Linked DNA regions of Homo sapiens. The protein of the gene in region 3 purifies or fractionates together with the protein of the main gene of each other region. This does not show direct contact. Each region holds a gene or a part of one and is shown on either strand. Other genes may lie near its edges. The genes, in order: LPAR1, CHRM4, HPF1, HPN and FBXL16.

Region 1 (6,507 bases), on a different chromosome or scaffold from region 3:
GGTTAATAGTCCAAGTTCAGTAGTCATTTGCTGCTGGCAATTCTGCAAACTATGAGTAGCACTTGTCGTAATAGAAAAAGTTCATGCATATAAAAAATGTCAACCAACATTTAGGTCATCAGCAAATAAATATTTGAGTCAATACAGGAAAAAAGTCTCATGTTATTTAATGTCTCATGTTTTATTTCATACAAAAATAGCATCCATGGTAAACAAAGATGTGTTTTATCCACATCATGGAAAATGTGGCCTTGTGGCACAGGTGTGCTTAAGGTCCTGTTAATAAACATACAGAGAAACCATTTTTGTAGTTCTACTAATCTTCATTGGATGCAATAAGACAATCTCATATCTGAGGTGATGGGGTCCTCAGTGTTTCAGTTAGTTAGGCAGGGTTTTAGGTGTGTCAGTGATCCCAAGGCTTAGTTGCTATTCTCACAGGTCTACAAGAGGGTCAACAATGAGTATAGCTGAAAATGATGTCCATGATGCAGTCATCCTAACCAAAACAGACGAGACCTATGCATCAATCTGAATACTACTTTATATAATGATCAGCAGGACCCTGTCTCCTTCCAGTGGCTAAAATTAAGGTAATTCCCAGAGTTTCAGAGGAGCCACATAATCCCATGTTACATTCACCCAAAAATGCTATATAAATTGGAGCACAGAGAATTATAGGAACTTTCCATTGAATTTCTGTGGGGAAAGAGGAGGTGATAAAATGTTTTTTTTCAATTTCCATAGGGAAAGATGAAATGATAAAAGGTTTTCAAAAAAGATTTTTTAATGTGATCAAACGTTAACCTGAATATAGTCTATGGAGAATGTATAATTCCATTGGGTAATTATTTTAAAAAACTCTCACTCTACTCTCAGCTCCAAAGGAAATGTCTGTATCTGTCCTTTTCATGGAGCCAGCACAGAGCGTAGAACATAGTAGGTGCTCTTTAACTACCTTCTACACACATAAGTGAATATATTCTTCTTGATCACTACTATGAATTTTTCATCCAAGAAAAACAATGCTTATTTAAAAGCAGAAGGTATTTGAGTCTACAAATCTTGCTCTTCACCTTGAAATATGAATTAACCTCCACTACTACAAATAGAAAATTAATAGAAAATAAGGAAGTTTTCATGAAGATGACTGTCAGAGAATATCATTAATTCCAATCTGTTTTGTTCAGTAAATCTATATAAAACCTTGATATACTACCTATAATGTAGCAACAATTACAGAATAGACTAACAAAAATAACTATATATGGAAGCATATTCATATTCTACAAAAGCACTTTCTGTCTGAAAATATGTAATACAGAAACCACAATGCAAAAGTTTCACAATTTAGGCTGTAAGAAAAATGAATGAGTTTGACTGGTAATTCTGGTATTTTCAATATTAGATAGCCAAACTCTTCAATGACATCTTTTACATCATCATCATTTATACTGCACCACTGGGACCCATGTTTCCCTAACGCTAATTCTATAATTTTAGGAAGACTCATAAGCTGACATTTAATATAAAGGTGCCTCATCCCCTTGTAATTCCTGGTGAATTACCTGGTGAATATTCATACTGTTGGTTACCTCTGACATAAAATAATGTGGTTTATGTTAGTCACTGAGAATCTATAAAGTAAGTTACAGTCAAGACAGAACTTACCAAGCACAATGACCACAGTCTTCAGAAGACTCATCATGGTATCCCGATTCCGCCGGGGTCCAGAACTATGCCGAGACATTCTCATAGTCCTCTGGCGAACATAGCCAAAGATGTGAGCATAGAGAACCACCATTACCACAAAGGTCACCAAGTTGAAAATGGCCCAGAAGACTAAGTAAGAGTCACTGTAGAGGGGTGCCATGTTGGAACAATTTTCAATATCACAGATACAGTTCCAGCCCACACTGGGTATAGCACCCATAACGATGGCCATAGTCCAGATGACCACAATGACCACCACTACCCGCCGGTTGCTCATCCGTGTGTGGAGCTGCATGCGGAAAACCGTAATGTGCCTCTCGATTGCAATAGCCAGTAAGTTGGCCACAGATGCCGTCAGGCTGGTGTCAATGAGGCCCTGACGAAGGAGCCATGTGCTAACAGTCAGTCTCCGAGTATTGGGTCCTGTGTTGAACATGAGATAGAAGTAGGCCAACCCAGCAAAGAAGTCTGCAGCAGCCAGATTAGCCATTAGGTAATAAATAGGAAAATGGAAGCGGCGGTTGACATAGATTGCCACCATGACCAATAGGTTGGCCAACATGATGAAGATACAAACAGTGATTCCAAGTCCCATCACCAGCTTGCTGACTGTGTTCCATTCTGTGGCAAGATGCTTTCCACTTCGGTTATAAAAGAAGGCAATGGACTCGTTGTAGAAGCACTGTGGTTCATTCATGGCTGTGAACTAAAAGAAAAAGGAGAAAAGATGATGAAAAAGAAGGCACAGGTCCAAATTTAAAGCTTATATAGATAACACAAGACTTTTATAGTACATGCAACAGAAAAACAAAAGCAAATAATTTGAACATTTGATCCTGCATACCATCTTGTGATTATGTTGAAACTCCAAGGTTTCTCACAATATTACTGTCCTTAAGATTAAAGGCAGTTGGAGTTAAATAAATGACAAGGTCTCTGCTTAGTGGTTTTATGTCATTGAAGTCTACTACAAAAGCCACATGGCCAAGAAATCTTGCTTAAAATACATGAGACAGACAAAAATTTTGCAGAACATTGCAATTGGAATATTTACCATAGTAAAATCTATTTGACCTGTTATTTAGGGAATCTGTAAACACAGTTGGTTTCTAGATAGGGTATCATTGCCCTATTATTCTGCATTTCTATTCTCACACAGTATGTTCCATGTGGGACAGACATTTTGTAATGCAGGTTCCCACAAGGACCATCATTCCAAACATTTCAAACAAGTCACTGTGCATCAAAGGTTTTTTGCCCAAAGCCAGCATTTGCTGCTCAACATTCCTGTGGTCAGCACTGCCTACCCCCACAACTCCTTAAGTTCAGAATAGGACTTGTCAACCAATCTATGACATTTGAGAATTTTTTTTCTTTTTGGAGGACCCAACGTAACCTCCAAAGAGTAGGTGACCCTTTGACAATGTTCTACAAGTAAAATATACTTAGATTAGATGCAGCATATTTTTTAAAGTGTGGAGTGAAAATGCTTTATAACATGTTTACTTATTCTTCAACATCATTGATAAGAATATATTTGCTTATTATTTACAATATTTATAATAATCACTTTAAAAAGGATTGAGACAGTTTAAAACAGAATAATATATGTTTATTTATCTATCATAATATATAATATATAATTATATATAATTATAATATGTAATTATATATAATAATATATTTAAACAAAATTAGAAAATAAGTAACAAACTAGAAATTAGAAAAGTATACATCACATAGAGTAAGTCATTCTTCTTGAAGCTCTAAGTTTACCTGGGACCCCTAAAATTAAAAAATATATCTTGAAGACGGTTCACATTCTACTTTTTCATTTTTATTTTGCTTTGAATCTAATAAATTACCCAAAACATATGACACTTTTAACCACTATTTTTGATCAAATATTCTACTGAATATCCATAGGTTGTACACTAAAACTTCCAAGAACAACGTGAAATACTTAAGTGGTTAGTCTTCTGACTTACCCAGGCATCTAAAGTCTCTTTCCTTATCTAGACTTTAATAGCTTTTAGATTATGCTTCAAATATTATACTTAATACATTGTATAATTATTTATCTCTTTACTTGTCTGCTTCTTAAAGAGATCACAGTCCAGGGCACAGTGGCTCACATCTGTAATCCCAGCACTTTGGGAGGCCAAAGTGGGTGGATCACTTGAGGTCAGAAGTTCGAGACCAGCCTGGCCAACATGGTGAAACCCCCTCTCTACTAAAAATACAGAAATTAGTCAGACATGGTGGTGGGCACCTGTAATCCCAGCTACTCAGGAGGCTGAAGCAGGAGAATCGCTTGAACCCGGGAGGTGGAGGTTGCAGTGAGCCAAGATCATGCCACTGCACTCCAGCCTGAGTAACAAAGCAAGACCCCAACTCCATCTCAAAAAAAAAAAAAAAAAAGACAAAGTTGATCAAGCTGTTTCCCCACTGGACATGTTTTAAGGGCTTATGAGTGCACGTTAGATAAAAGTCTAAACTTTTCAATCATCTTATCAGACCTTACTTACCTGCCTCTCCAGCCTCAACTCAAGATATTAATGACTCCAAACTCTCAGCTTCAGCTCTATTTAATGTGCTGTGCTCTCTCTCTCAACTCTGGTTCTCAACAGTGAAAACAGTGGTTTCTTGTATCAGAATTACCTGAGAGTTTGTAAAACACTGATTGCTGACATAACCCGCAAGAACTTCTGATTCAGTAGATCTGAGGTAGGGTCCCAAGTAATGCCAAGGCTGCTGGTCCAGGGAATCACTGTATCATAATTGCTTAATTATCTGTTGATCCCCTCTACACTAGGCTATGAAACCCTATAAACGCAGAGATTCTAGCTTGCTTATTCATTGTTGTATAGTATCCAACTGTTCTATGGACTACATGCTAAATACATATTGATTTCCTTAATAAATTAAAGATATTTCCAAAAATGTTTAAACTTTACAAATTTTCTTTCTGCAAAGGATATTTAAAACTTTGTCAAGACAAATATAAAAGTCTGTTCTTTTCATTAGTCTCTATAACCATCTACCTTCTCTGAATCAAGAAATGTTTAAACCAAATATCAAGCGTATATTATTTCCCAGCATTCCAACTTCTGAACACCAAGTAGCAACAAAGTTAAGCAGAGATATATGCAGCTTCTTAGCCCTTCCCACAGAGAAAAACGATAAAGTTAAGGATGGCAAAATTAAGAAGTATAAATTATCTCTTTAAGCCACAATGTACAAAGATGAGTAAAACTGACAGATTTTCTCTAAAGGTAGAGAAAAGTGCCCTGTCCTATGCCATTTCTTTTCTCTCAACAATTGACTGTAATACCATAAAAACCATACATATTTAATGATAAAACTTAAATGATTTTCGAAACTCAATTTTATCATCTGTGAAATGAGGAAATTGGACTAACTTATACATAAGGTCTAGTTCAGATTTAAAATCCTATACTAAGAGGATTCTGGATAAGAACGCTATATTTCATGAAAATTAGCAGCTAAATATTGAAAGAGTAGAAAATACACCAGGAATTAAAAATTGGGAGGGTATAATATGCCTGAGAAGAAGTGAGAGGAATTTCAGTTAGTTTTATGACAATAGGACTGAACTGATAGAGGAATTAAACCTCCTCTCTTATTGTCTGCAGAAAGCAACAGGTCAAAAGAATAAGCAGTGGAGACCCTGAAAGCACCTCCAATGGCAGTAAGAAGGGCAGTGTGAATGGGCTTTCCTACTTCTTCAGGAGCCGACAGACTTAGGCAGAAAACCTACATGGTTCAGAGAGAATCCAATTTAACTGCAATTGGACTATAGGCCAATAAGATAGTCAGGGCTATAATGACAGAAAAATAATTATGGAACATAATGGGGAAAAATGTAATCAAAGGAGGTGGCCACTTATCTCTCGCCAAAGAAGAAATCACCTCCCACTGAAGCAGATGTATGGGAGGGGAAAAAAAGAAGAGATAGAAAGAGAAAAAGATTAAATGATGGGACATCTCTGATTTGTGTCCTCAATGTGTTTTGTTAACATAGTAACATTGAAAATAGAACAAGCCATTATGAAGACAAAAGAAATCAGTAAAAACATCACAAAAATAGTTTTTTATTGCTACTTTAACAAATTGCTATAAATTTAGCAGCATAAATATACAAATTTATTCTCTTACAGTCCTAGAGGTCAGAAGTCCAAAATAGGTCTCACAGGACTAAAATCACCGGGAAGGCAAAGCTCTGTTTCTTTCCAGGAGCTCTAGGGGAGAATCCGTTTCCTTGTCTTTTCCAACTTCTAGAGGCTGCCCACATCTCTTGGCTCATGGCTACCTGTCATCTTCAAAAGCTAGTAATGACTAGTCAGGTCTTTCTCACATGACTGACACTCAATCTTCTTTCTCACTCTACCACATTTGATGACCCCTGTGATTACACTGAGCCCACCCAAAAATCTAGGAGAAACTCCCCATCTCAACATCTTTAACTGAAACACATCTGAAAAGTCCCTTTCTCTATGCAAGGTAGTAGCCACAGGCTCTGAGGATTAAGTAATGGATATCTTTGGAAGCCATTATTGTGCCTATCAGAACAAACTGAAAAACAATTTCTGTATTAAAAATGGCAATGCAGGTAATGAAAGGAAGTATAAAAATTCCAGAAAACTGAAATGGCAGGTAGAAGACTAAGGAAATTCACCCAACACTCAGAAAAGAGTCAGAGATGACAAGAACAAAAGAAAAGAAGGCACATATAGGAAAAAAATTCAAGATGCACCAGGGGTCCAAGAAAGA
Region 2 (5,751 bases), on a different chromosome or scaffold from region 3:
CACCCTGACTCGATGTGTGACCTGGGACAGCCTTCTAAGGCCGGGGCTGCAGGGGGCTGTCTTCTGAATACGTGGACCACTCACGGCTCAGCCTGGGATCGCAGAAGGCCAGACCTCAGTTCCTGAGACAGAACCTCTGACCTCCCAGCTGCCCCATCTTAATGTGACAAGGGCAGTGCTGCTGGGGCGGGGGGGACCTGGCCTCCATCATACCCACCCAGAACCTGGCTAAGTAGCTGCAGCCAGAGGAGATTTCTGCCCCTGGAGTGGGATTTGGGGAGAGGGGGCTGAGCCTACATGCGGGGTGCAAGGGGGCAGAAAGCACCGATTACAGCAGAATGGGGGACCCCACCCTTCTACTCCCTTCCCAAGCCTCCTTTTCCAAGCACTGGCCCCTTTGTTCTTCCTGAGGGGGCCCTGGGCTTCGGCCCCCATCCAGATGTCCATTCTTCCAGCACTGCTGATGGTTGGTCACAGTGGGGCAGGTGCCCACCCAGGCCAGTGCCCCGCAGCTCGCTGAAGCAGGGCCACAGAGGTGGGCCAGGCAGCCCCAGTTCAGACACTCCCTGGGGTGAGCCTCCTCAGCCTGAGCAGAGATCTGGTCTCTGAATGCAGCCACAGAGCCTCTTCTGAACTTCCTCCTCAGCAAACGTGAACGCAGAATGGTGCCTGCAACTCTTCCCCACAGCAAGTGAGCCGTGTGGTCCCCCCAGCACACGCACGCAACACCAGCACCTCCTAGGGCACTCCTGCCTGCCTACCTGGCAGTGCCGATGTTCCGATACTGGCACAGCAGCAGGTGCCGGAAGGTCTTTTTAAAGGTGGCGTTGCACAGAGCATAGCAGGCAGGGTTGATGGTGCTGTTGACGTAGCAGAGCCAGTAGCCAATGGACCACACCGTGTCAGGGATGCAGCTCTGGCAGAAGGTGTTCACCAGGACCATGACGTTGTAGGGCGTCCAGGTGAGGATGAAGGCTAGCAGAATGGCAAAGATCGTTCGTGTCACTTTGCGCTCCCGGGCCGCCATCTGCCGCTTCTTGCGCACCTGGTTGCGAGCGATGCTGGCGAACTTGCGGGCCACGTTGGCCGCAGGGCGCATGCCAGCCGGCGTGGCAGGCACAATCTCAATGGCTGTCACACACTCATTGCCTGTCTGCTTCGTCACAATCTGGATCTTGGACCATCTGGAGGCTGGGTTGAGGGCCCGCGGCTGCAGGGGAGGGGCGGGCATGGCGGGCGTGGTGGCCTCTGTGGTGGACAGCTCTGTGGCTGGGCGTTCCTTGGTGTTCTGGGTGGCACTGCCTGAGCTGGACTCATTGGAAGTGTCCTTATCAGCCACGGGGCGCGGTGGCGGTGGCAGCGCTGGCGGGGGGGCCTCCTCCAGCTTGCCATTGCGCAGCTCCTCCCGGGCGGCCTCCCCGGGCGGGGGCTTCTTGACGCTCTGCTTCATTAGTGGGCTCTTGAGGAAGGCCAGCGTCTTGGCTTTCTTCTCCTTCGGGCCCTCGGGCCGGTGCTTGTGGACTCGGCTGCGACTGGCCAGGGAGATGTGGATGTACAGCACCGTCATGATGACCACAGGCAGGTAGAAGGCAGCAATGGCTGTGCCAAAGGTCACTGCTGGGTTGGACAGGAACTGGATGAAGCACTGGTTGTCGGGCACCGTCCGCTTACCCACCACAAACTGCCAGAACAAGATGGCAGGCGCCCAGAGCACGAAGGACAGTACCCAGGCAGCAGCAATCATGAGGCCTGCCATCTTGGTGGTGCGCCGGGCAGGGTAGGTGAGAGGCTTGGTGACGCAGAAGTAGCGGTCAAAGCTGATGATGAGAAGGTTCATGACGGAGGCGTTGCTCACCACGTAGTCCAGGGCCAGCCACAGGTCGCAGACCACGGCGCCCAGGGGCCAGTAGCCCTTGATGATGTACACGGTGTAGAGGTTCATGGAGAAGGCGCCTATGATGAGATCAGCACACGCCAGGCTGAAGAGGAAGTAGTTGTTGACTGTCTGCAGCTGCCTGTTGACCTTGATGGACAGCATCACCAGGATGTTGCCCACGACAGTCACCAGGCTCAGGGAGCCTGTCACTGTGGCAATGAAGACCATTTCCACCGTCTCATAGCGATTGTGGGATGATGACGTGACCAGGCGCACGGACTGATTGCCCGAGCTGCCATTGACAGGTGTGAAGTTGGCCATGTTGGTTGCCAGGGGTGGGTAGGCCGTGTCTGGGGAGGAAGGGGAGAGAAAAGCATGAACTACAGGAGGGAATGGGGGAGTCATCTGGAGGTACACTGGATTCAAGGTGACAGAGGGACATTCTCTGGCAGAATGCCTTGAGAGAACTCTGTCCCGCCATCCCGCATTTGCCCATTCATTCAACATTAATTGAGCACCTACTATGTGGCAAGCATTGCTCAGGGTGCTGTGGCTACAGAAGTGAATAAGACACACATGGCCCCCTGCCTCATGGGGGGAGACATGCAAACACGTGAGCCACAAAAGAAAAAAAAGGCAGGGTGATGAGAGAGTGAGTCAGAAGGCAGGACAGGCATGACTCCTTGCTAGGTGGCCTCACCCACCAGGTCATCTGGGTGATGAGGAGCCAGCCACAGGAGGAGCTGTGGAGAGTGGCCCTGCCAGGGGCAGTAGCCACAGCAAAGGCCTGGAGGCAGCGCAAGGCCTGGACAGAGGCCAGTGCTGGGGGAGCTCAGGGAAGCAAGAGGAGGAGGAGAGTGGTCCCAGAGGCCCACGAGCATGTGGGCTCTGGAGGGAGGTGTTCTGTTCATCCATTTACCCATTCGGTCATTTCTTAACACCTGCTCTCCAACCCCTGTAGAAGACACTGGGACAAAGGCAATAATCGGGGTATGTATGAGCACCTAACACTGATGGTCTACTAAGTGCCAAGCACTTTTGACACTTAAAAAAAGTGTCTATTTATTTATCTATTTATTTGTAGAGACAGGGTCTTGGTATGTTGTCCAGGCTGGTCTAGAACTCTTGAGCTCAAGCCATCCTCTCACCTCCTGAGTAGCTGGGACTCCAGGCGCCATCATGCCTGGCAACATTTTTTATAGTGTTAACTCATTTCATCCTCATAACAAACCTATGAGGTAGATACCATTTTTTCTCTACTACTTACAGATGGGGAAACTGAGGCACGGAGCTGTTAAAAGCCTGACCAAGGTTTCACGGCTTCTTGCACTATGTTGCTGGTGGGATTAAGTGCGGGGTGAGGTGGTGAGAGGAAGGCAGTCCCGTAACTTAAGAGCTCTGGCTGAAGGAGGCCAAAGAGCTCCAGGAGCCAGAAGGCTTTGCAGGGGACCAGAGGCGGTGCATGGAGCTGGGCACCCCAGAGAGGAGGAGAGTCCCTGCAGAAGGGGCTTCAGGAGGTACCTGCAACTGTCACATCCCCTTCAAGGAGTCCTCAGCTCCAGCCACAGGGCATGCAGCTGGGAGGGAGGCAGTGCAGGGGTCACTAGGTTGTCAGAGAACCCTGAGGCCCAACTGGGGACCCGTGAGGTGAAAGAATTGTCCCAGAGGGAAGAGAAGGGCTGCCAGGGCCGCCTCTCCCCTCCACAGTCCACTCCGCACACCGGGCGGCGCCCTAGCTGGAGTCCCCACCACAGGCCCTTCCCTGAGCCTGCCCTCCCTCCCACCAGGCTCCTCTTAGCTCTCCTCCCCCTCTTCCTCTTCCCTCCATGTGAGGGAGGCCCACGCCAGCTCTGAGTGCCAGGGCAGCCGCTCAGCCCAGCCTCCTTCACACCCGCCAACACACACACCGCTCCACAGACGCACGCGGGCCCATCACAGCCACGCCAGCCCAGCAGGCATGGTCGGATACGCAGTTCTGTGCGTCTGTGTGTGAGAGGAAGAGAGGGCGCGGCAGCCGGCTGTGGAGGAAGGAGCACTAACCCGCAGCCTGGGCTCTGGCTCTGTGGCCTGAGACGATCCACTGCCCCTTCCTGCACCTCTTTCTCATTTGCAGAATAGAGAGGATCCTGTCCTGGGACATCCTCCCCAGCAGCTATAGGGATTGGCACCTAAACTTGATCTCTATACATAAACACAAAAATGTACTGCAGGCTGGGGCCAAGGGCCAGGGTAACTGCCCCAAGTCTGACCCCAGCCCTTCTATTCCACCGTCGCAGATACAGACCCAGCCTCCTAGCCTGATAGTTCAAGTTCTCCTGTTCTAAATCCTTGGTTCGTAGGAGGAGAGGCTGAGAGCAAGTGTTGTCACCCCCAAGGTCACACAACGAGTCAAGGGCAAAGACCACATACTGCCCTCTCTTGGGGTCCCTGACAACCCCATTTGGCTCTGAGAGCCTCTGAAATAGAAGCTCAGGTGTCACTCTCTGAGCTGTCCCCTCCAGCACCAGGAGGCTGCCCTCCCCCAATCACTCACGTGGAGGAGGGGACAGGGCAGGCAGGAGTAATCAGTCAGCCAGCCCCAAGGAAACTCACTTCAGCCTCCCAAGGCAGGATACAGGGCAGCAGGATGATAACAAACGGGGCTAGAAGTGCAGAATGTGAAAACATAATAGCTCTTGTTTATTGAGTGTTAACTGCGTGTCAGGAACCCCTCTGAGCTTTTAATATAGATTATCTGGTTTAATCCTTACAACAGCCTGAAAAGGCAGGTATTATTAGTGTCCTCATCTTACAGATGTAAATATCCTCTTATAGATGAGGATAATGTTAATCAACTGGCCCAAAGTCACCAGGTTAGGAAGTACGGGTGGGGGCAGAAGAACCCGGGAAGCTCCTTCTTAAAGTCCAAGGTGCTACTGCTCAGAGTTGACCTCCTGCCTCTGCTCCCCTCGACCCGAAAACCACACAACTGAGGGACTGTCCAGGTGAGGCTTGGGTAGGGTCCCCTCACATTCCTGCTGGCTTCTCGACTTAGCTTTCCCAGAAGACAAGCGATGTCTTGTCTTCTCCCAGATCCTGGCGGCTGGGCTGAGCCGGGACCACTGGATGGCCGGTGATTAAGTCCTGCTCTTGGCCCGCGTGAGGGAGCTGCCAGGTGCTGACAGGGCGAGGCTCAGGGTCTCCCCGACTCCGCCCCGCCCCAGCTGTCGTCGTTTTGGACACCTCGGGGTCACCCGCAGACATTCCGACCCCCTCTGGCGCCTTCCCTGGAATCCAGATACGCCTGGCATCTGGGGAGCGAGCCGCCGCCGCCGGGGCTGTGCGCACCGCTAGATGGCAATGTCGGTCCCTGGTGCCCGCTCCGGACCTAGACCGTGCGGCCGCCGTTGGCCACCGCCCCCAACTCCAATGCGACTGCGAACCCAGAGGAGCCCTCAGGCACAGCCTCCCGGGGAAGTGACGCGGGGTCCCCTCGCCAGGCCCCGTCGGACGCCGCCCCAGAGCTGCCCTCGGCTCCGCGCGGGGTTCTCGGGTGGGAAAGTTGAGGGAGCCCGGATTCCACCCGGCACCCTGCGAGGAACGTGTGGGCGGGAGCGCGAGTGCGAGTTCTGTTTGTGTGTGCCTACGGGGGAGCGCGAGTAGACGCTAGTAGCTGTATGCATGTGCGTGTGTGTGCGCACGGCCACGCCTGGATACCAGTCCGCCCGTGAGAGCGCGTGAGCATGCCGCGCCGTGTGCACACGTGCATGTGCATGCGTGTGCGTGCCTAGGGTGCTGTGGCCGGGAGGATGCACACGGTTCGGGTGCCTCTACACCTGTGGACTTGCATGCACAAGCAAATGCAGGGCCGAGAGTGGGTGACCGGTCACATTCCA
Region 3 (6,507 bases):
ATAACACTAAAGGTCGATAGATTTTTTTTTTAATGTTGAAGTTTGTGTTAAGAAAAATTTAGAAAACACAAAAGGAAAGCAAAGCTACTTTGTAAGCTTATACAAAAGCATAATCCAAAGTAGTTCTCAAAAGTATGTGAATATATATCATGTTAATGCCACTTATGGAAATAATTTTATATTTTGTCATAAACAGGTTAAGATTTTTGCCATCAATATAAAAGGTCAGGAGTAAAATGAAGAGCGGCAAGAGTGTGCCAGACTTCCAGGAAGAAGGCTGAGGGAGTAACAACTCCTAGGAAGAAACTCACTTCTATTCACTGCCAACATCTGAGAGTTTGTAGTATTCCCTGCAACACTGTTAGGGAGTTAGAACATTTATAGTGGGTGCTAGTCTTAGCTTCATTGTACTTATCAGGAAAAAAAAAAGGCACAGAGGATAGTCAACTTACCCAAGTTGAGAGAGCTAATAGATTAAACCCGTAGAGTTACCAGTAGAACTGGTAGATTAAAATGCCACAGAAACCCAAGCCATCAAAATCTAACTTCTGATTACAGCACACGGTTACACTAAATCTTACCTTCAATTATTACCAGCTGTATGTCTAGAGGGTATTTTTATATCAACCATAAAATACAGATTTGATCATGTCAGTCCTATGTGAATCAATCGATCTTTACAGTCTTCCTCAACACTCTGGCACGGCAATATAGCCATTCAAGTACCCTGTGCCACGTATTTTCACACTTTCACACACATACTGCTCCCTTACCTAAAACATCCTTCTTCCCATTCTTTCTAGTAAGTTCTTAGGCATCCATCAAAGCCCACATAAAATATCCTCTTTTACCTCTGCCACTATTGAAGGCACTTGGTAGCTGCCTTCCCATACATATGACATTATTATGACTATCTCTGTAAGTTTTTGTCTCTGCCGAAACCTACTCTAACACTTTACTGTGTGATGCTTAAAGATAAGGTGCGATGTGCAACTGAAGCCATAACCATGAACGTGAACATTTTGTGCTGTGACTTTAAATCCATTAGAATGTCTTCAACGCAAATGAATTTGTACCCATGCATGTTATATGGCATCATGCAATGGCCCTTTGGAAATAGTGGTTTACTAAGTTATATAGATGTAAGTGTTGAAACTTATATATCAAATTCATTACATAACATTATGAAAAAAAGCTATTGCGCTCACAGTGGTATTACAAGTTTCTCAATCTAATTTTTATTTGAAACCCTGAATTTTATCACTGACAAAAAATATAGTCAGTTGTTTTCTTTGGTTCATTTGAGAGAATTCCTGCCAGTAGCTAGACCCAAATAACCAGTTTGTCAATGAGTCACTCTTTTTTTTTTTTGCATTCCAATCTTGGGTTTATTCAACACAATTCTTCCACTCTACACAACAAAGTACAAACACAATGTCATCTAAAATGCTACAAAGGTATAAAACTCAAAGAGAAATTTTATAGTACTGACTGTACAATAAGAAAAAAAAAGAAAAGCAATGTACATGTTGCCAAGATAACCTGAAAGACCACCATGAAGGACAGGCACAACCATGGCTGCGGGATGACCCCACAGAGCTGGCTCTCAACTCACTCGCCAATTTCAGAGTAGGGTGGTGGGGTGGTGTGTGTGCATAGGTGCACGGACAGACAGAACCATGCACAGCAACTACCATGGGTGAGAGGATCTTTGGGGGTGTGTGACCCTTGAAGTCGGAAGAGGCCTCGAGAGGCCGGGCCTAACAGGGTTGGCAGCTGCACTAAACCCTGGGGCAGCTCCCTTTCCAAAAGGACACTGCCCAGCGACAGCAAGGGCACGGCCTGGCCACCATCCCAGGTCATCAGGGAAGGGAAAAGTGTGCTCCCAGGTAGGCAGGGTCAAAGCACCCCCAAGAGTCTTACTTGTCCCTGGTGGCTCTGCCACTGAACTGACTCTTAGAAACTGGAAATGGGTGAGCTTTCTAGCCAGAAAACCAGAGGGAATCTTGACAGGCACACAGTCAATGAGTCACTCTTTCTAAAAGTGGGGAAAAGTTCATCTCAAAATTCAATCATACAAGGGCTTTTTTTTCCCTTGAGACAAACCACAGTACTTCAGTATGAGAAATGCTTTCTATGTATTTCCTATTTCATCACAGAATGTTAAAGAGATGAACTCAATGGTAGACATCTAATACATGTATACTCCAACACTGACATTTTTCAGGCACAGGGTCTTGCTATGTCGTTTAGGATGAACTTGAACTCCTGGGCTCGAGCAATGCTCCCACCTCAACATCCCGAGTAGCCACCATGCCTGGCTCCATCACAAACATTTTTAAATACATTTGCATGTTACTGCTGTGAATAATGCAATGACTGCTGCTACCCTGGTGGCACTATCTTGATTCCTGCCAAGGTGACAACAGTATTATCCACTATTTACTTTGTGCCATTGGTGCAAAAATAACATTTTATTATCACAAATAGTTTTGACCTTAAGGGTCCCTGACCCAAGGTCAAAACTGTTTACCCCAGTTATTTTAGGAAAATAAATAAGGCAGAAGGAAAAAAAAAATCATTCCTTTGTTGTTCAAAGTTATTTAAGAATTATGTTTACTTCCATATGCATTAGACAGTATGAAATGGAATCATTCTACACTATTGTTATTTGCCCACTTCATAACAAATTCAACAAATCAATACCAAAGTATTATAGTATATGGATAGTTTATATTTACCTAATCTTCCCTATTGCTGGATATGTTGCCAATTTTTCATTTGATAAACAATCTGTAATACACATATTTCTGTACCTGTCCAAAATCCCTTTAATAAACAGCTAGAAGTGAAATTGCTAACTTAAGGGTATAAATGTGTACTTCACATAGTACCTGACAATGTCACCTATTAAGAAATCTTAGAATATGCTTTCTAAGTTAACATTTTTCAAATGTTAACATTAAACATTTTTCAAACTGCTTTCTACAAAAGTTTTACCAATTAACACATCAGTAAGGGTTCTTATACCCTAACCATCATTGGTTATTACCATTCTTTAACCTTTAAAAAAAATCTTTGCTGGTTAAATTGGCATTTCTTTAGTTACTATTAAATCTTGCAGACACAAGATTTAATAATAACTAAAGATAAAAATGTGTTGATCAAAGGTATGCCTTGAAAGACCTTATTCAGTCTGCCATAAAAATAAATTTTAAAATATATAAAGAAATTAAGTGTTCTGGTTAGCTGATTTAAGGAGGTAGTACCTAAAAAACTAAAACCGTTATAATACTTTAAAAGTACTAAAATAGTTATATCTCAAGTAATTTTTTACCCCTGTTTGAGATAAATTATTGGAGGTAGTTCCTCAAATACTCACTTGCTGATCTTCACCTAAGTTATAAATATCACCCATGCATTTTTTTTTTCTTTTTCATTGTCTATGTTCTCCAATTAGCTTAAAAAAAAAAAAAGATACCAGAAGAGTCTTGGGTTATGTTACATGACCACTATTATGTTATCTTTTTTTAAAAAAAAAAAAAAACATGACTAATAACACAAATGAAAAGTTAGGCTTGTTTTTCGAAAAAGAGACAGTCTCACTATGTTGCCCAGCCTGAAAAAATTAGGTGTTTTTACATGCCAAGGTATTTATAGAATTAATATTTATGGAGCATCTAGTATGGGGCAGATACTCTGCCCTCGTGGAACTTAACATGCTAGTGCAAGAGACAGACAATAAGCAAGAAAACAACAAGAGTTTCTAATAAAGATGGCACCAATTTAAATTGAATGATAAATCCAAAGAGTTTAAAAGAAGTTATAAATTACAAATACCAAGTAACATTTTATAGGAAACTGAGAGGTATTAGAAAAGAAAGAACATTTTTGGACATCTACAATGTAGCTGCCTTGTAGATACACCAGTATGTACGTAGCATAGTCTAGTGGTTGTAGTAGGGTGATTTAGTTTGAATTCACTTTACTGCAAATTTGTATGATCAAATCACAGGGAACAACAGCCCTTTAAAGAGACAGTACTAAAAGAGGTCAAAGAAAAGATAATCTACTTGTATTTGAAGTGATAAAGTTTGCTTTCTTCATTACAATGCAAACTACACAGCTGCTGACAAATAAAATGGCTTCAAGTCATGTCTGTGGCTGATATAGCACAGACTGGCTCACTCACCTCTATTCCAACCCCTTCCCCATGAAAGTTCACTGCATTTCCCATACTACTCTTTAGCTCAGGCTCCACATGGGACCTATCTTCTTCCAAGCAGCTGCAATACTTTGAAATCTCAGAGGCAGAAGAGATACCACATGGAGGCTGTGCTTCCACGATCTCCATCAATGAGCACAGCTGTAGAGGCATCTGATGGTTCTGCAGCAGCTGTAGCTGAGATCCCAGCACCTGGTTCTTAGCTTCACGGGGGCTGAGAGGCAAAGAGTAGGGCATCCATTTACCTGGCCCAGATTATACCAAAGATAATGTGGTCCTAGAGCCACTCACTGTGGCAGCAGTTCTCGAATTCCCAGCTCCCTGATGGTGGCAGAGACAAAATCCACTGTGAGCCACACAACTGTCATTCCTGGAAGCTCAGCCTGCTCCCTCAACCCTTCCAAGGATATAATGACCACCTCTTTTTACTTTATTAAGCCTTTCTGTTTGAACCATACATAAGAAATAAACTCTTAACAGGTGTTTAAAATCAGATGTCTAACAAAACTGTTGATGTTGCCATGGAACACCTGAGGTCAAGTATTATTTTCGTTAAGTAAAATAGTTACATAAGAGGTGTATTTTTTTGGTGAAGAGGCACAAAATAACAGTATAGATAAGACTACCTGCAAAAGTCATGGAAATTATCTCTAGAAATCTACAATTATGGGCTTGTCTCAAATCCGCTTTGTTTTTTTTTTTGGAGATAGAGTCTCACTCTGTCACTCAGGCTGCAATGCAGTGGCGCAATCTCGGCTCACTGCAACCTCCGCCTCCTGTGTTCAAGCAATTCTCCTGACTCAGCCTCCTGAGTAGCTGGGATTACAGGTGTGTGCCACCATGCCTCCAGCTAATTTTTGTATTTTTAGTAGAGATGGGGTATACCCATGTTGTCCAGGCTGGTCTCGAACCCCTGACCTAAGCGATCTGCCCACCTCGGCCTCCCAAAGTGCTGGAATTACAGGTGTAAGCCACTGTGCCCAGCCCCTCAAACCCCCTTTGTAATGGACTAATGTAGTATAAACATTGTAAACAAATATAAATTAAAATATTCTTACTTGACTGCAGCAAATACATTATCTCCATTTGGAACAATTATACAATTTTTCTTTGCTTCATTTATACCAACATATACAGGAAATTCATCAGGAGAATCCCTGTGTAAGCAAAAGACATTAAAAATTTAGCTGCCCATAATTTATATTATCAGGCAAGTGGGATTTCAGGTCTACAGACAACAATTTACACCTATTTTTTTTCCTTTTTGGAGGCCTTTTTTTTTTTTTAATCATACCAGAATTTATCGATTACATCAAACAAAAATTTCTGTAATGGAAAAGGCAAGTTGCAGTCATAAAAGATGGCATTCACATTCATTTTAGAAAGCAACAACGTAGATGTAAAAAATTGTTTAAGTGAAAAATGTAATATTGCAGTCCCATTTTGCAAGCTGAAAAATTTTGTCAACACACATAAAATCTGCACATTTACATACTGCATGTTAAAAAATTCCATCACTAAAGTATTATAAATATTGCAAAGTTAGGCTTAAATTTATACTGTTGCTGGTGTATATGTAGTAGATATGGAATGAATGTTTTCAGTTTAGTAGGTAGCATCCTCAAACAACGGACAACAGTTGTGAAAATTACAAAGACATTTCAATAGCTCAAAATTATCCAAATTATAGGTACATCGTCCTATTATTACACTTTTTTCCCTTTCTCTGTCACAAATAGGATGATTACATTGTAGTGGTAGGAATACTGCATGGTCTACTTCAAATTATTCGATCTGCTAACCCCACACTAGTCATTTTTCATCAGCTCCTCAGTAAAATATCTTTTAAAAAGGAAAGCCAGGTCCCTCCCAAGGATCTAGGTTGATGCCTTTTTTATAAGGGCATTTTTAAAAAAATTCAAACAAATTTGCCAGTTTTAAGCTCCAAGTTTCTTAGGAATATCTATGATAAATCTTATATAATGGAACCTAAAACTAAGATTCTTAGGACCTAGTTGCTTTTATACTCAAATACAAAAAAAAAAAAAAAGGAAAAACAAGAAAAAGGATTGTAAAACATTAGAGATGAAAGGATCCTATTCACGTATATAACCAAACCTTTTATTTTAAAATTGAGGAAACAAATACCGAGAGGTTAAATTACTCAGCCAAGGACCTAGTAAGTTAGGACCTTGGCTACAGTATAATTCAATTCCTAGCCACATGTGCATTCTGCTGTACTACAACACTTCTTCCTGGGCACGTTCCTTCTATTACCTTAC
Region 4 (6,507 bases), on a different chromosome or scaffold from region 3:
GGTCCACCTCTCCAGTCCCCTGCCCCTCACAGGTAAGTCTAAGGGCTGAGCCATGGGGCTTGAGGACCCGAGGCCAGGAGGACAGAGGAGGGGACCAGGGGCACAAGGCAATCAACTTATGGCTCAGGCATCCTTGGCAATAAGGGGAATGATCTCGAGGGAGCACAAAGTGGGCCTTAACTATCAATGATCAGTGCAGCCAATTTGGAAAATTTGCCAGCATTTCCCCAAGAAGTATACATAAAGTTACCATTGGACCCAACACTTCCACTCCCAGGACAGGAGGTATATACCTAAGACAAATGGAAACTGTGTCTGCACCAAAACTCGTACATCAGTGTTCATAGCAGCATTATTCATAATAGCCCAAAGATGGAAACAGCCCAAGACTGTTTCATCGGACAAATGCATAAAGAAAATGTGGTATATTGACCGGGCGCGGTGGCTCATGCCTGTAATCCCAGCACTTTGGGAGGCCGAGGTGGGTGGATCACGAGGTCAGGAGTTTGAAACCAGCCTGGCCAACATGGTGAAACTCCATCTCTACTAAAAATACAAAAATTAGCCTGGCCAACATGGTGAAACTCCATCTCTACTAAAAATACAAAAATTAGCCTGGCCAACATGGTGAAACTCCATCTCTACTAAAAATACAAAAATTAGCCTGGCGTGGTGGCACACGCCTGTAATCCCAGCTACTCGGGAGGATGAGGCAGGAGAATCTCTTGAACCCGGGAGGTGGAGATTGCAGTGAGCCGAGATCACACCACTGCACTCCAGCCTGGCTGACAGAGCAAGGCTCTGTCATCTTGAAAATAAATAAATAAATAACAAAAAAAATGTGGTATATCCACACAACGGGAGAATATTGGACCATAGAAATGAATGAGGTACTGATTCATGCTACCACAAGGATGAAACTTGAGAACAGTGCTGAATGAGACAAGCCAGCCGCAAAGGCCACATACTGTAGGATGCCACTTGTATGAAATGTACAAGGCTGGGCACGGTGGCTCACGCCTGTAATCCTGGCACTCTGGGCAGCTGAGATGGGAGGATTGTTTGTGCTCAGGAGTTTAAGACCAGCCTGGGCAACATAGCAAGACCCCATCACTTAAAAAAATGAGCTAGGTGTGGTGACGGATACCTGTAGTTCCAGTTACTCAGGAGGCTAAGGCAGGAGGATCACTTGAGCCCAGGAGTTTGAGGCTGCAGTGGGCTAGGATTGTGCCACTGTACTCCAGCCTGGGTAACAGAGCAAAACCTTGTCTGTTAAAAAAAGAAGAAAGAAAGAAAGAGAAAGAAAAGAAAGGAAGGAAGGAAGAAAAGAAGAAAAGAAAAGGAAAGAAAGAAAAGAAATGTCTAGAATAGGCACATCGGTAGAGATAGAAAGTTGATTGATGGTGGCAGGGTGGGAGGTGGGGATGGGAGATTGGGAGGTGACTGGTGAAGGACACAAGGTTTCTTGTCTGGGTGATGAAAGATTCTAAGTCGATCATGATCATGGTTGCACTTGTCTGTGACTACACAAAAAGCCAGTGACTTGTGCCTTTAAAAGGAATTGTCTAATATGTGAATAGTAGTTCAATCAAGCTGTTACCAAAAAACTAATAAAATGAAAAGAAAATGTGTTAAAAATGAATGAATCAGACTTAGAAAGTAAGTTAGGAGTCATTCCCTCTGCAATTCCCTGGAGTATTCCCTTGGTCTTACTGAGACTCACTTAGGTGCCAACATGTCCTTAACACCTCTCCAACACATACATCTTCCTTTTGGATTAAAAGCAGGCCCTGGGCTTCAGATTTCAGCAGGCTGCAGTGTAATAATAATAATAAAAATAGGCTGGGCATGTAATCCCAGGCCAAGGTGGGGGTATCGCTTGAGCTCAGGAGTTCAAGACTCGCCTGGGCAACATGGCAAAACCCCATCTCTACAAACAAAAAAAATTAGCTGGCTGTGGTGGTGCGCGCCTGTGGTCCCAGCTACTTGGGAGGCGGAGGCAGGAGAATCACCTGATCACCCAGGAGATCAAGGCTGCAGTGAGCCATGATCACACCACTGCATTCCAGCCTGGTTGATAGAGCGAGACCCTGTCTCAGAACATAATAATAATAACGGTGATAATGATGATCATGAAGTAGTAATAGCGAGTAGTATTCGAGTTCATGATTGAGTATTCGAGTATAGCGAGTTCATGATCATGAAGTAGTAAAAGGGAATAAGGGAGTACATGATGAGTGTACACAACACAGTAAAATAATCTGGTAAACATAGCAGTGTGCCAGGCACCATTCCAAATATGTCCTGTGTATGGACTCACTTAGTTCTCACAGCAACCCCAGCACACCCTGGTAAGGAGGGTTCTCTTAAGATCCTGTTTTCCACCCAGGAAAAGGTCCCAACCCAAAGAAGGCAAACAATGCCCCAAATTCGTACAGCTGGTGAACGGCAAAGATTTGTGCCCAGGTGGACTGGCACTGGAATCTGTGCTTGTGGCCCCCACGCTGTGGTGACGGAGAATCCAGGGCCATGTTGGGGTTGGCATTATGTTTATTTTTATGTTTATTTTATTTTTCATGATCTGTGGTACTGGTTTCCCATTGAAGGGAGTGATACATGCTTTTCTTTAAAACCAAACCCTGTCCTGACATGGTGGCTCACGCCTGTAATCCCAGCACTTTGAGAGGCTGAAGCGGGCAGATCACTTGAGGTCGGGAGTTTGAGACCAGCCTGGCCAACGTGGTGAAACCCCATCTCTACTAAAAACACAAAAATTAGCCAGGTGTAGTGGCAGGCACCTGTAGTCTCAGCTACTCTGGAGGCAGAGGCAGGAGAATCACTTGAACCCAGGAGGTGGAGGTTGCAGTGAGCCAAGATCGTTGCCACACCCTTCTCCTTAGTGAAAAGAGTGAGAGAGTTAATATTGAAGTAAGGACGCATCTTTGAGGACAGGTGGACAGGTGGAAGCGGCTGGGATTTCAGACACAGGGCTGAGGGGGTCACAGCATGGGCTTTGGGGTCAGATTCAGATATTTGCCAACTGTGTGATCTTGGACACATGGCTTCACCTCACCGTGCCTCAGTTTCCCTTATCTGTAAAATGACTTCCTAGGGTTATTGAGACAATTAAAAGGGTTAATATGAGTAAAGAGCTTAGAGAACTGCCAGCACATAGTGAACACTGGTAAATGTTAGCAATTGCTACTATTGTTGTTTAATACTTTTACTAGTTATATGAACACTTGCTGTTTGCCTGGCATGCAACTCAATGACTCACCAATTTCTCACTACAACTTCTGGGGATAAGTGATTATTATTTCCATTCTACATCTGAGAGCTCTAAGACTCAGGCAGGTGATGTCATCAGCAGGCAGCAGGCAGCAGGCAACAGGCAGGGCTGCCAGGAACCCTTGCATAGGTTGTGCACTGCACAAGGACACCACATCTCAGGGTTACCACTCTCTCTGTAGACCTGTGTATTTATTATTATGATTTTCTGCTAGGTGGAAGTCAAATGTCTCAAGATAGGAGTGTCTCTCTCTCTCTCTCTCTCTTTCTTCTCTCTCTCTCTTTCTTTTTTTGAGACAGAGTCTTGCTCTGTCACCCAGGCTGGAGTGCAATGGCGCAATCTCGGCTCCCTGCAAACTCTGCCTCCTAGGTTCAAGCGATTCTCCTGCCTCAGCCTCCTGAGTAGCTGGGATTACAGGCACCTGCCATCTGTAATCCCAGTGCTTTGGGAGGCTGAGGCAGGAGGATTGCTTGAGCCCAGGAGGTCGAGGCTGCAGTGAGCCATGTTCCTGCCACTGCACTCTGGCCTGGGTGACACTGCAGGCTTAGAAATGAAAACAAGCTGTGTTAAAACATACATGTTATGAAACTTTGGACACGTGACTTGGCCTCATTTTCCCCCTCTCTAAAATGGGATAATATAGACCCTACCTCTCTGGGCTGATGAAACATTAAAGAAAATGGTGCAGGAAGGCGCCTAGTATGCGATGAGCTCTTGGTACGTGGCGACTTCCGTTGTGGCTTTTTTGTTTGTTTGTTTGTTTTTGAGACAGAGTCTTGCTCTGTCGCCCAGGCTGGAGTGCAATGACATGATCTCGGCTCACTGCAACCTCCACCTCCTGGGTTCAAGTGATTCTTCTGCCTCAGTCTCCCGAGTAGCTGGGATTACAGGTGCGTGCCACCATGCCCGGCTAATTTTTGTATTTTTAGTAGAGATGAGGTTTCGCCACGTTGGCCAGGCTGGTCTCAAACTCCTGACATCAAGTGATCCTCCTGCCTCGGCCTCCCAAAGTGCTGGGATTACAGGCATGAGCCACTGTGCCCAGCCTATTGTGGTTTTTTTTTTAAAGAACAGAGAGGGCAGGGTGTGTTAGGGGCCATGGTAGCAGCTGGACAGAGGTTTGTACCAGGTGGGGCAGGCCAGCGGGGGCTGGACCAGCATTGTCTCTCTCACAGAATACATCCAGCCTGTGTGCCTCCCAGCTGCCGGCCAGGCCCTGGTGGATGGCAAGATCTGTACCGTGACGGGCTGGGGCAACACGCAGTACTATGGTGAGTCCTGTCCTCTGCCTCTGATGCCACCGTTTGGGAGACTCTGAACTAGGCTGGGGATGGGCAGTCTGGCTGGTTGGATGAGTCTTGACCATGAGGAGTAGGGACGCTGAGGGGAATGGGGTGGGCACCAGGAGGGAAGGGGGGTGTGTACACCCCCCAGCTCTGGCCAGCCTTGCCTGCACACCCCCAGGCCAACAGGCCGGGGTACTCCAGGAGGCTCGAGTCCCCATAATCAGCAATGATGTCTGCAATGGCGCTGACTTCTATGGAAACCAGATCAAGCCCAAGATGTTCTGTGCTGGCTACCCCGAGGGTGGCATTGATGCCTGCCAGGTGAGGGACTCTGTAGGGGCAGCCCCCTGGTCGCTGCCACCCCAGGGATGGAGATGCAGGGGAGTGGGTGGTCAGGCTCCCCATCTAAAAGCCTGAGGGCTCTGGGGCCACAGCCCATGTCATCCCGGGGTGGGCCTCCTGTCCAACCACTTTGGCCTTCAGCCAGACCTCCCTCTCCCCTCCCAGGGCGACAGCGGTGGTCCCTTTGTGTGTGAGGACAGCATCTCTCGGACGCCACGTTGGCGGCTGTGTGGCATTGTGAGTTGGGGCACTGGCTGTGCCCTGGCCCAGAAGCCAGGCGTCTACACCAAAGTCAGTGACTTCCGGGAGTGGATCTTCCAGGCCATAAAGGTGAAAGTTGGGTCCAGATGGGAGCCAGGGTGGGGACGTTTGGGTGTCTAATGGGGGAAGGGAGGCAGAGATTTGTTTTAGGAAACCTACGCTCAGGCCTAGAAGAGGGCCCCCCTTGGGAACAGATGGACTTTGAAGGGTTCCTGGGGAAGGGAAGCCAGTGGTGGGACGTGGAAGCCTCTCAGACCTCGGGAGCCCCCAGCTGTCTTTCCCCAGACTCACTCCGAAGCCAGCGGCATGGTGACCCAGCTCTGACCGGTGGCTTCTCGCTGCGCAGCCTCCAGGGCCCGAGGTGATCCCGGTGGTGGGATCCACGCTGGGCCTAGGATGGGACGTTTTTCTTCTTGGGCCCGGTCCACAGGTCCAAGGACACCCTCCCTCCAGGGTCCTCTCTTCCACAGTGGCGGGCCCACTCAGCCCCGAGACCACCCAACCTCACCCTCCTGACCCCCATGTAAATATTGTTCTGCTGTCTGGGACTCCTGTCTAGGTGCCCCTGATGACGGGATGCTCTTTAAATAATAAAGATGGTTTTGATTAATGTGGCCTCCGAGCTTACAAATGTACACAGCAATGAGGACATTTTGTCAGGAAGGAAGAGAAGAATTAGGACCTGGCGCAAATCAGACAGAGAGTGTGGGTCCCTCAGTTCCCACTGATTTGAGATTTAAGATTTTAATTGGTTCACTTAACTGGAATTTTCCTGGAGCAAATTGGCTTCAGGTACAGCTGGATCCAGCTGCTCTCTCAAATCTGCCTTAGGCTGTGTTAGCTTCATTTCCAAGCAGCCTCTCCTACAACCAGAGAGAGAGATGTCCCCTTCCACACAAACTCTTTCCCAATCACTGCAGAAAAAGTCCCAGGCAACAACAACAAAAACCCAGGCCCAGCTCCCATTGTACAGATTTGGGTCACGTGCTCATCCCTTGGCAAATCACTGTGCACCGGATGTACGCGGTAGGGGTGGAGCGGGGTGGAGTGGGAGGCGCTAGGCCTTCAAGAATCGTGTGACCTGAGTGTGGGAGTCCCAAAGGAAATAGGGTGCTATTTCCAGAAGTGGAAATAGATGCTCAGTGAGCAAAAAAGACATCTACCTTGAACCAACACGGAAAACGGGGCCCTGTAAGGTGGAGATAGGGAGACGCTGGGAACACAGCCTGAGACCCTCCCCCAACCCCTTTCTCCATCTGGGCAGCTTCTGGGGAGGAACCCCCTTCTGTAGAGCCTCTGCAGAGCCTCATGCAGCCCCGATGGCCACCA
Region 5 (6,507 bases), on a different chromosome or scaffold from region 3:
CTGGAGCGCAGACTGGAGTGCAGAGACAGGATCTTGGCTCCCCGCAACCTCTCTGCCTCGTAGGTTCAAGTGATTCTCCTGCCTCAGCCTCCCGTGTAGCTGGGAATTCGGGCGCCCACCACCACACCCGGCTAATTTTGTATTTTTAGTAGAGATGGGGTTTCTCCATGTTGGTCAGGCTGGTCTCAAACTCCTGACCTCAAGTGATCCACCCGCCTCAGCCTCCCAAAGTCCTGGGATTATGGGAATGAGCCACCGTGCCTGACCGGAAACCTTTTTGTTTGCCCAGTGAGGCGAAGAAACGCCGACACTTTTTAGCACTTAGGTACCATGATGGCCATTTTACAGAGAAGAAAATGGAGGTGGACCTGGTGAGGCCAGGACTGCTCTCTTGACCTCTCTGCTGTGCCGTCCACTGTAGGTACCCACCAGGCCCACCCCTCTGGGCAGGCCAGGGGAACTGAAGGGAAGGGTCTGGGGTGGCCTCTGGCCCCTCCCCTGCAGGGTGACTGCACAGCGCTCAGGAGGGGCTCTGGTGCTGACTCTGCAGCCACCCTCCACATGCACAGGAGCTTCCCTGGCTCAGAATCTACCCAAGGGGCTGGGTGCAGTGGCTGATGCCTGTAATTCTAGCACTTTGGGAGGCTGAGGTGGGTGGATTACAAGGTCAGGGGTTTGAGACCACCTGGCCAACATGGTGAAACCCCTTCTCTACTAAAAATACAAAAATTAGCCGGGCTTGGTGGCAGGCTCCTGTAATCCCAGCTACTTGGGAGGCTGAGGCAGGAGAATCACTTGAATCCAGGAGGCGGAGGTTGCAGCGAGCCGAGATCACACCACTGTACTCCAGCCTGGGGAACAGAGTGAGACTTTGTCTCAAAAAAAAAAAAAAAAAAAGAAAGAAAGAAAGAAAAAGAAAAAAAGAAAAGAAAAAGAAAAAAGAATCCATGCAAAGAAAGGGCGGGCATCTTCCCAGGGTGTGCTGTGGTGCCAGCATGGTTAGCCCTGGACACAAGCTGTCGCTTTAATCTTCTGCCCAATGAGAACGATGCTGTGATAGCTGTACCCACTGCACAGATGAGGAAACTGAGGCCAAGGCTGGGCAAACTGCCTGCCCGAGGTCATGGCCAGATAAGTGGTGAAGCCAAAGTTCGGGCAGAGCTGGCTGAGGAAGGCCATGCGGAGGTTATCTTCAGGCCAGCGACATCCACGCACAGGGTGGAGTGGGAGCAGTCCCGGGCACCCTCCTCAGGCCTCCAGTCTGTAAGTGGGTGGCAGGGGGCACTGGGCACAGCCACGGAAAGAAGCAGAGGTGGGACCCTCACTGTGCCACCATCTGCTCCACAGTTCGGATCTCCTGCCGCCCCCACCCCGACATCCGGGGAGGAGGTAGAGCCCCTGGGGTCACACGCCCTGGACTTGAAATGGGCCCCACCCTGGCTCTGTGGTCTTGGCAAGCCACTTCCCTTCTCTGAGCCTCAATTTCCTCACCTTGAAGCCTGGGGAGGTGACGGTACCTGCTCCCTTGGGGCATTGCAAAGTGAACGAGCTCAGTGCGTGGCTCATAGCAAGGTCTGGGAGAGTGATGTCTGAGCCCCACGGCCACACTCCAGGGCAAAGCAAGATGCATCTTCCCCGGTCTTAGGTGACTCCAGGACTAAGCCTGGAGCCTCATGCAGGTCCTGCCTTCCTGCCCCAAAATCTCAGAGGAGGGGCCAAAGCCTCTCCCAGCCCACCCTGCCCCCTCCTGCCACAGCCTCACTGGAAGGTCTCTTGGAGCCACCAAGGGGGTGTCTGAGAGTCTCCCACGAAGATTCCAACGCTTGGGGTGGGCCCTGCAATATGCAGACTCTCAGGAAGAGGATGGCTCACATCTTTTTGGCTGAGTGTCCCTTCTGGGGCTACAGGGCCTGGCCTGCTCCACCACAGAGAGTGGCGGGGTCTCGGACGGCACTGCAACCCCAAGGCCCGCAGCCCATTCCCCATAATCTGGTCAGGGGGGAGGGGAGGCAGGGAGGCAGGGAGGCAGTGGGAGGTCCTGCCCCGCTCTTCCCAGCAGCAGGTCCCCACACTGGCTTCCAAGCCCCAGACAGGGCCAGCCTTGCCACCGGTCCACATCTGGGGAGGGGGTGTAGACCGGAGCCGGGACCAGGGGTCTCGCCAGAACACGTGGCCCTCGTGGCTGAGAACCCAGCTTTGGGTTTAAAGTCCTTCCTGCCCTAATGGCAGGAGCCCCAGCTCCACCCTCTGTACCATCTCCCCCTCCCCAGAGTATCATTCGGGTCCTGGAAGGTGAGGCCGGGCCCTCCACAGAGGAGGCACCCACAGCCGGTGACCCCCATCATGTGCCCATGATCAGAAGGCGCGGCCTCCGGAGGCCGACATCACAACGTTTGCAAGGGCCGGCTGGGGTCGGCACATGATTCGACCTCACGGCCGCCCTTAGGGGTGGAGGGGTCGCTACCTCAGGTTTGGGGAAGGAACACGAGGCTCTGAGGAGCGAATTTGCCCCAGGTGTCCGGGGAGGCCTGGCGCGGGGCTGCCTCGGTTCCCTCCCAGAGCCGGGGAGAGGGGATATCGCAGGATGCCGGCGCCCGAGGCGGCAGCACCAGGCCCACGGGCGCCCCAGTCTAAATATCCTCCGTGCCCCTAGAGCGGGGACCCTCGCTCCCCAGACCCGGAAGCGCCGCCTTCCCCGCCAGGGACGCCTGGGCCTCCGCAGACCCCGCCGGCCGGCGCGCCACCCGCGCCAGCACCATGGACAGCGGCCGCCCCAGCCGCGCGCTCAGGGCCAGGCCCGGGCTGGCTTCCACCGCGGACGGCTGCGGGGTCGGGGCAGCCCCGCAATCCCAAATCCCGGCAGCCCCCGCTCAGCAGGGAGGGGCCCCGGGGGCGAAGAGTGGGGGAGAAGCCGGGAAGGATCCGGAGGAGGCGGCGGGGGCGGCGCCAGGGGAGGAATAATCCCGGCGCAGTGCCGATTTAGGTTGAAAACGCTCCCAGTCATGGGCCTGCACGTGGAGCGCCGGGGCTGGGGGAGGCATTCGCGGGGCTCCTTTCCCGCCCCGCTCGGGAGCTCACGTTTGCCGGCGCCCACAGTCCCGTCCCCACCTCCAGGCCTCAGGGTCGAGATGGAGAAACCAAGCCGCACTTTGAGAGCCCACAGGAGGGAGGGGACAGGCTGAGGAGCGGCCGTCTGGGTATGGGTCCGGGGCCTGGCTTCCCTCATCCACACCCGCAGCGCTGCCAGAAGGCGCTGCTCTGCCTGTGGTCAGCCCTCGACCCGTGTGCTTGGTGGGAGCTGCATCCCCGCACAGGCAGCCCCACTGCTCCCCAATCTCGCGTCCACGTTCCTGCCGGCCCCCGCTGCTCCTCACACTCCCGGCTTGACTGACTCAGCCCGAATATCCCCCACCCCGTAGCTCAAAAATGCAAACAGCCACACACTTTGGCCCAGGCATGGGCGCTGCGGGAGAAAGCTGAGCTCAACTGGAGACTGGGGTCTCTCTGCCCGTTCAGCGAGAAGTCCCTGGGGGCTCACACAAGGGCCCCTCTGCTTGGCCCTGGGCCCGGCCCCACCCACCCAGCCAGACGGTCACCAAGGAGCCGGTTCCCATGGCTCACAGAGCCCCCTTTCCTGCTTGGCGACTGTGAGAGCCCTCGTTCCACCCAGAGGGGCTCGGACGACCTGCGTGGGCTGCTAGGGACTGCCTCTCCCTTTAGGGACAAGCAGCCCGGGTGCTAATACGGGGAAGAGACTTGTTAAAAAGGTGGCCATGCCTGCACCATCCTCAGCCTCAGCCCCTGTGGTGCTGGCTCAGCTTGAAGTGGAATCCTGTCAAGGCTCCGGGGCTCACCCCAGGGGAAAGAGAGAGAGGTGGCCCCACCTCAGCTGTCTTGTCCTCAGCAGCCTGAGCCTGGCCTGGGAGCTGCTGGGGAGAGGTGGCCGTGGCCTCTGTGTCCTCCCCAGGGGACGCAGTGTGAAGCGTGTGGCCAGAGTGAGCCTAGGGAGCACGGTGGGGCCTGGGTGCTCCTGGGGGTCCCCACATGTACATGTACAGCATCCAGGCTGACCATTCCCAGACGGCCATGTGGGGGCCCCGCAGGAGCTGCCTCTTCTGCGAATCAAGTCACTGAGCCCGGAGACCTCAGCTCCGGCCCCTTCCCAGCCCTGATGCCACAGCCCAGCCATGCCATTCCTCCTCCCCTGCTCCTCTGCCTGGGCACACGCCGTTCCCCCTGCTTGCCTGGCAGGGTTTCCCTGCCTTAGCCCTGCAAGCTCTTCTCCTCCATCCCTCAGTTCCTGGTGCGAGGTCGCCCCTGCCTCCTGCTCCGGGACCCCCAGCTCTTGAGAAAGCGTCTCCAGGGTCTTGCAATCACATGGGTTATCATCACTGTCCACCTGGTGTCTCTCCTCCTGGCCTGAGGACTCTTGAGGACAGACAGCACCAACGTGCATGGCCTCTGCATGTTCGCGGAATGAATGAATTAGGGAACGAATGAATGAATGCGGAATGTGGCTCCGCTAGCTCAGTCACGCAGAAAGGGGTGCAGCTGCCAAGGCCCCCGGAGGGCTGATGGAGGATTGGTCAAATTTAGGAAGAGGCCGGTCAGCGGGGAAGGCACAGCTCGGGAAATTAACCCGGATCGTGCCATGGCCAGTGTCCGCGGGGAGAGTGGCCTCTGGGGTTGGGACTAGGTTGGTACCTGAGTCACTGAGAGGGCTCCCAAGACCCCAGGGCTGGGGTGGGCCTTGCAATACACAGAGCCTTCGGATGAGGAGGGCCCATCTCCTTTTCAGCTGGCTCTCTCTTCAGGAGCTGCAGGGCTGAGGAAGTGGCTGCCCGTCCTCCACCATCTGGCCTGAGCCAAGAGAGGGAAGGGGGTCCTCCTGCCCCGCTCTCCCTGGCACCACACGCACCCCTCCTCTGACCGGCCAGAGTCCTTCCTTCACACACTGCCTAACTAGGAGTGGGGAAGCAGAGCTTGCAGACGGATTTTCCAGAAGTTACATAGAGCTAGGATTGGCTCCAAAAGCCCCGGGGCTGGCTGATTCCCTCTACCTGGGTCCTGCCAGGTGTACCTCACAGGGTCCTCGCTCTGCCCTGTTCTGCCTCATGGGGTCTCGATGCCTTCCTGCTGGGCCCTGGGCTAGTGGTCTCTCCAAGTACTGCCCTCATCCTGCAGGGTCCCTGCCACGGCGCTGCATTCCTTGCAGAGGCTGCACACCGCGTGCCCACCCCTGGGACATCCTTTTGGACACATGCCTGGGAAACCTCCTCACCCCTCAGCGCCCCCAGTTTGAAGGTCTCTTCCCCCATCTCTGGTGCCCCCATCTCTGTCAGCACCAGACTGGGGCACAGCCTAACCAACCACTCAGCCCTCATAGAACCTCAGGGACCATTGAGCCCTGCCTGCAGAGGGCCTTAGAGCTGGGCAGGGCCCTGGTGGCCAGAGAAATGCACATCGGGCTCCATCTGCAGTGGCAGCCCCAGAGCCTGGCTGACAGCTGGGGTGGCTGGGGATTGGGGACAGGGTGCAGACTGACACATTCCGTGGCAGCCCCGTGACGCAGGCACACCCGCGTCCCTGCCACTTGGCACGTGGCACAGCGGCAGAGCTCCTCTCCCGCCCCCAGTTTGAGATGCTTCTGGGGGTGCACCAGGGGCTCTGAGGAGGGGCACCATGGCGCAGCAGGCACGTGGCCTCAAGAGAAACCCGTGTTGCTGCCCCAGCAGACTGAGGGCCCATGGTCAAGCCCAGGGCAGCTCAGCCTTGAAAGCTGGACACCCTGGGGAGTGGGTGCTGGGATCCAGGCCTCATCTCAGCCCCTGCTCGGAAGAGCATGAGCACCCTCAGAGGCGAGGCCTGGGCCCCTAGTGCCTACTGCTCCAGGCAGCTGCCACTAACCATCACCCCTCTTTCCTGCCCAGTGAAGGAATGAGGCCTGAACCCACACATTGCAGCCAGTTTGGCCGTTGACTCCTCCTGCACCACTGGTGGGGAAGGCTCAGTCACCTGCTCACCCACAGAGCTCCCTTCACTGCCAATCCAGTCATGGGAGGCACAGCAGTGGGTGCCCACATGCAAGGAGATGGGGTCTTCGGGTGGCTGAACAGTGCCACCTGGGTGGGAGATCCCTAACTCTCAGCAACACAAGGCTTCCTGGGTCCATGTCCAGCTGGTTCAAGGGCCCCGTGCCTCCCACACAGGAAGCTGTTTGTGTCCTTCTCATCAGTGGGAGGTAGGACTCGTCCAGCCGCCCCGGAAGTGGGTGTGAGCTGGAGGCAGTGAGTCTGTCGATGGAGGGGCTGAACTCAAGGGTCTGGCCCCAGATGAGGGGCAGTTGGGGTGGCAGGGGGCAGGGAGTGGGGCAAGTGAGTCCTAGGGTTCCCCCACACAGCGATGTTTGCAGCTGGGCCTTGAATTTCCCTCCCCTCCAGGCGGCTCCAGGTCCAGCCCTGTGTCCACCTCTGGCCAGACCAGCCAGGTTCCACTAGGCCTCTGCCC

The links.
Region 1: the proteins of HPF1 (region 3) and LPAR1 purify together in Homo sapiens (co-immunoprecipitation; one large-scale study listed by IntAct). This does not show direct contact.
Region 2: the proteins of HPF1 (region 3) and CHRM4 purify together in Homo sapiens (co-immunoprecipitation; one large-scale study listed by IntAct). This does not show direct contact.
Region 4: the proteins of HPF1 (region 3) and HPN purify together in Homo sapiens (co-immunoprecipitation; one large-scale study listed by IntAct). This does not show direct contact.
Region 5: the proteins of HPF1 (region 3) and FBXL16 purify together in Homo sapiens (co-immunoprecipitation; one large-scale study listed by IntAct). This does not show direct contact.

What each region holds. Positions count from the first base shown.
Region 1 is NC_000009.12:110,939,750-110,946,256, forward strand, and holds part of LPAR1 (lysophosphatidic acid receptor 1), read right to left. Parts: intron 2,420-6,507; coding exon 1,672-2,419; coding exon of another isoform or gene 1,592-1,671; exon of another isoform or gene 163-1,591; intron 1-162.
Region 2 is NC_000011.10:46,384,361-46,390,111, forward strand, and holds part of CHRM4 (muscarinic acetylcholine receptor M4), read right to left. Parts: intron 2,227-5,751; 5' UTR 2,198-2,226; coding exon 758-2,197; 3' UTR 1-757. UniProt on the Homo sapiens protein: The muscarinic acetylcholine receptor mediates various cellular responses, including inhibition of adenylate cyclase, breakdown of phosphoinositides and modulation of potassium channels through the action of G proteins.
Region 3 is NC_000004.12:169,743,461-169,749,967, forward strand, and holds part of HPF1 (histone PARylation factor 1), read right to left. Parts: intron 5,383-6,507; coding exon 5,284-5,382; intron 1-5,283. UniProt on the Homo sapiens protein: Cofactor for serine ADP-ribosylation that confers serine specificity on PARP1 and PARP2 and plays a key role in DNA damage response.
Region 4 is NC_000019.10:35,060,786-35,067,292, forward strand, and holds the end of HPN (serine protease hepsin precursor), read left to right. Parts: coding exon 1-32; intron 33-4,464; coding exon 4,465-4,560; intron 4,561-4,753; coding exon 4,754-4,896; intron 4,897-5,082; coding exon 5,083-5,247; coding exon of another isoform or gene 5,248-5,298; exon of another isoform or gene 5,299-5,457; intron 5,458-5,463; coding exon 5,464-5,502; 3' UTR 5,503-5,788; downstream 5,789-6,507. UniProt on the Homo sapiens protein: Serine protease that cleaves extracellular substrates, and contributes to the proteolytic processing of growth factors, such as HGF and MST1/HGFL. Plays a role in cell growth and maintenance of cell morphology.
Region 5 is NC_000016.10:698,036-704,542, forward strand, and holds part of FBXL16 (F-box/LRR-repeat protein 16), read right to left. Parts: intron 1-6,507. UniProt on the Homo sapiens protein: Substrate-recognition component of the SCF (SKP1-CUL1-F-box protein)-type E3 ubiquitin ligase complex.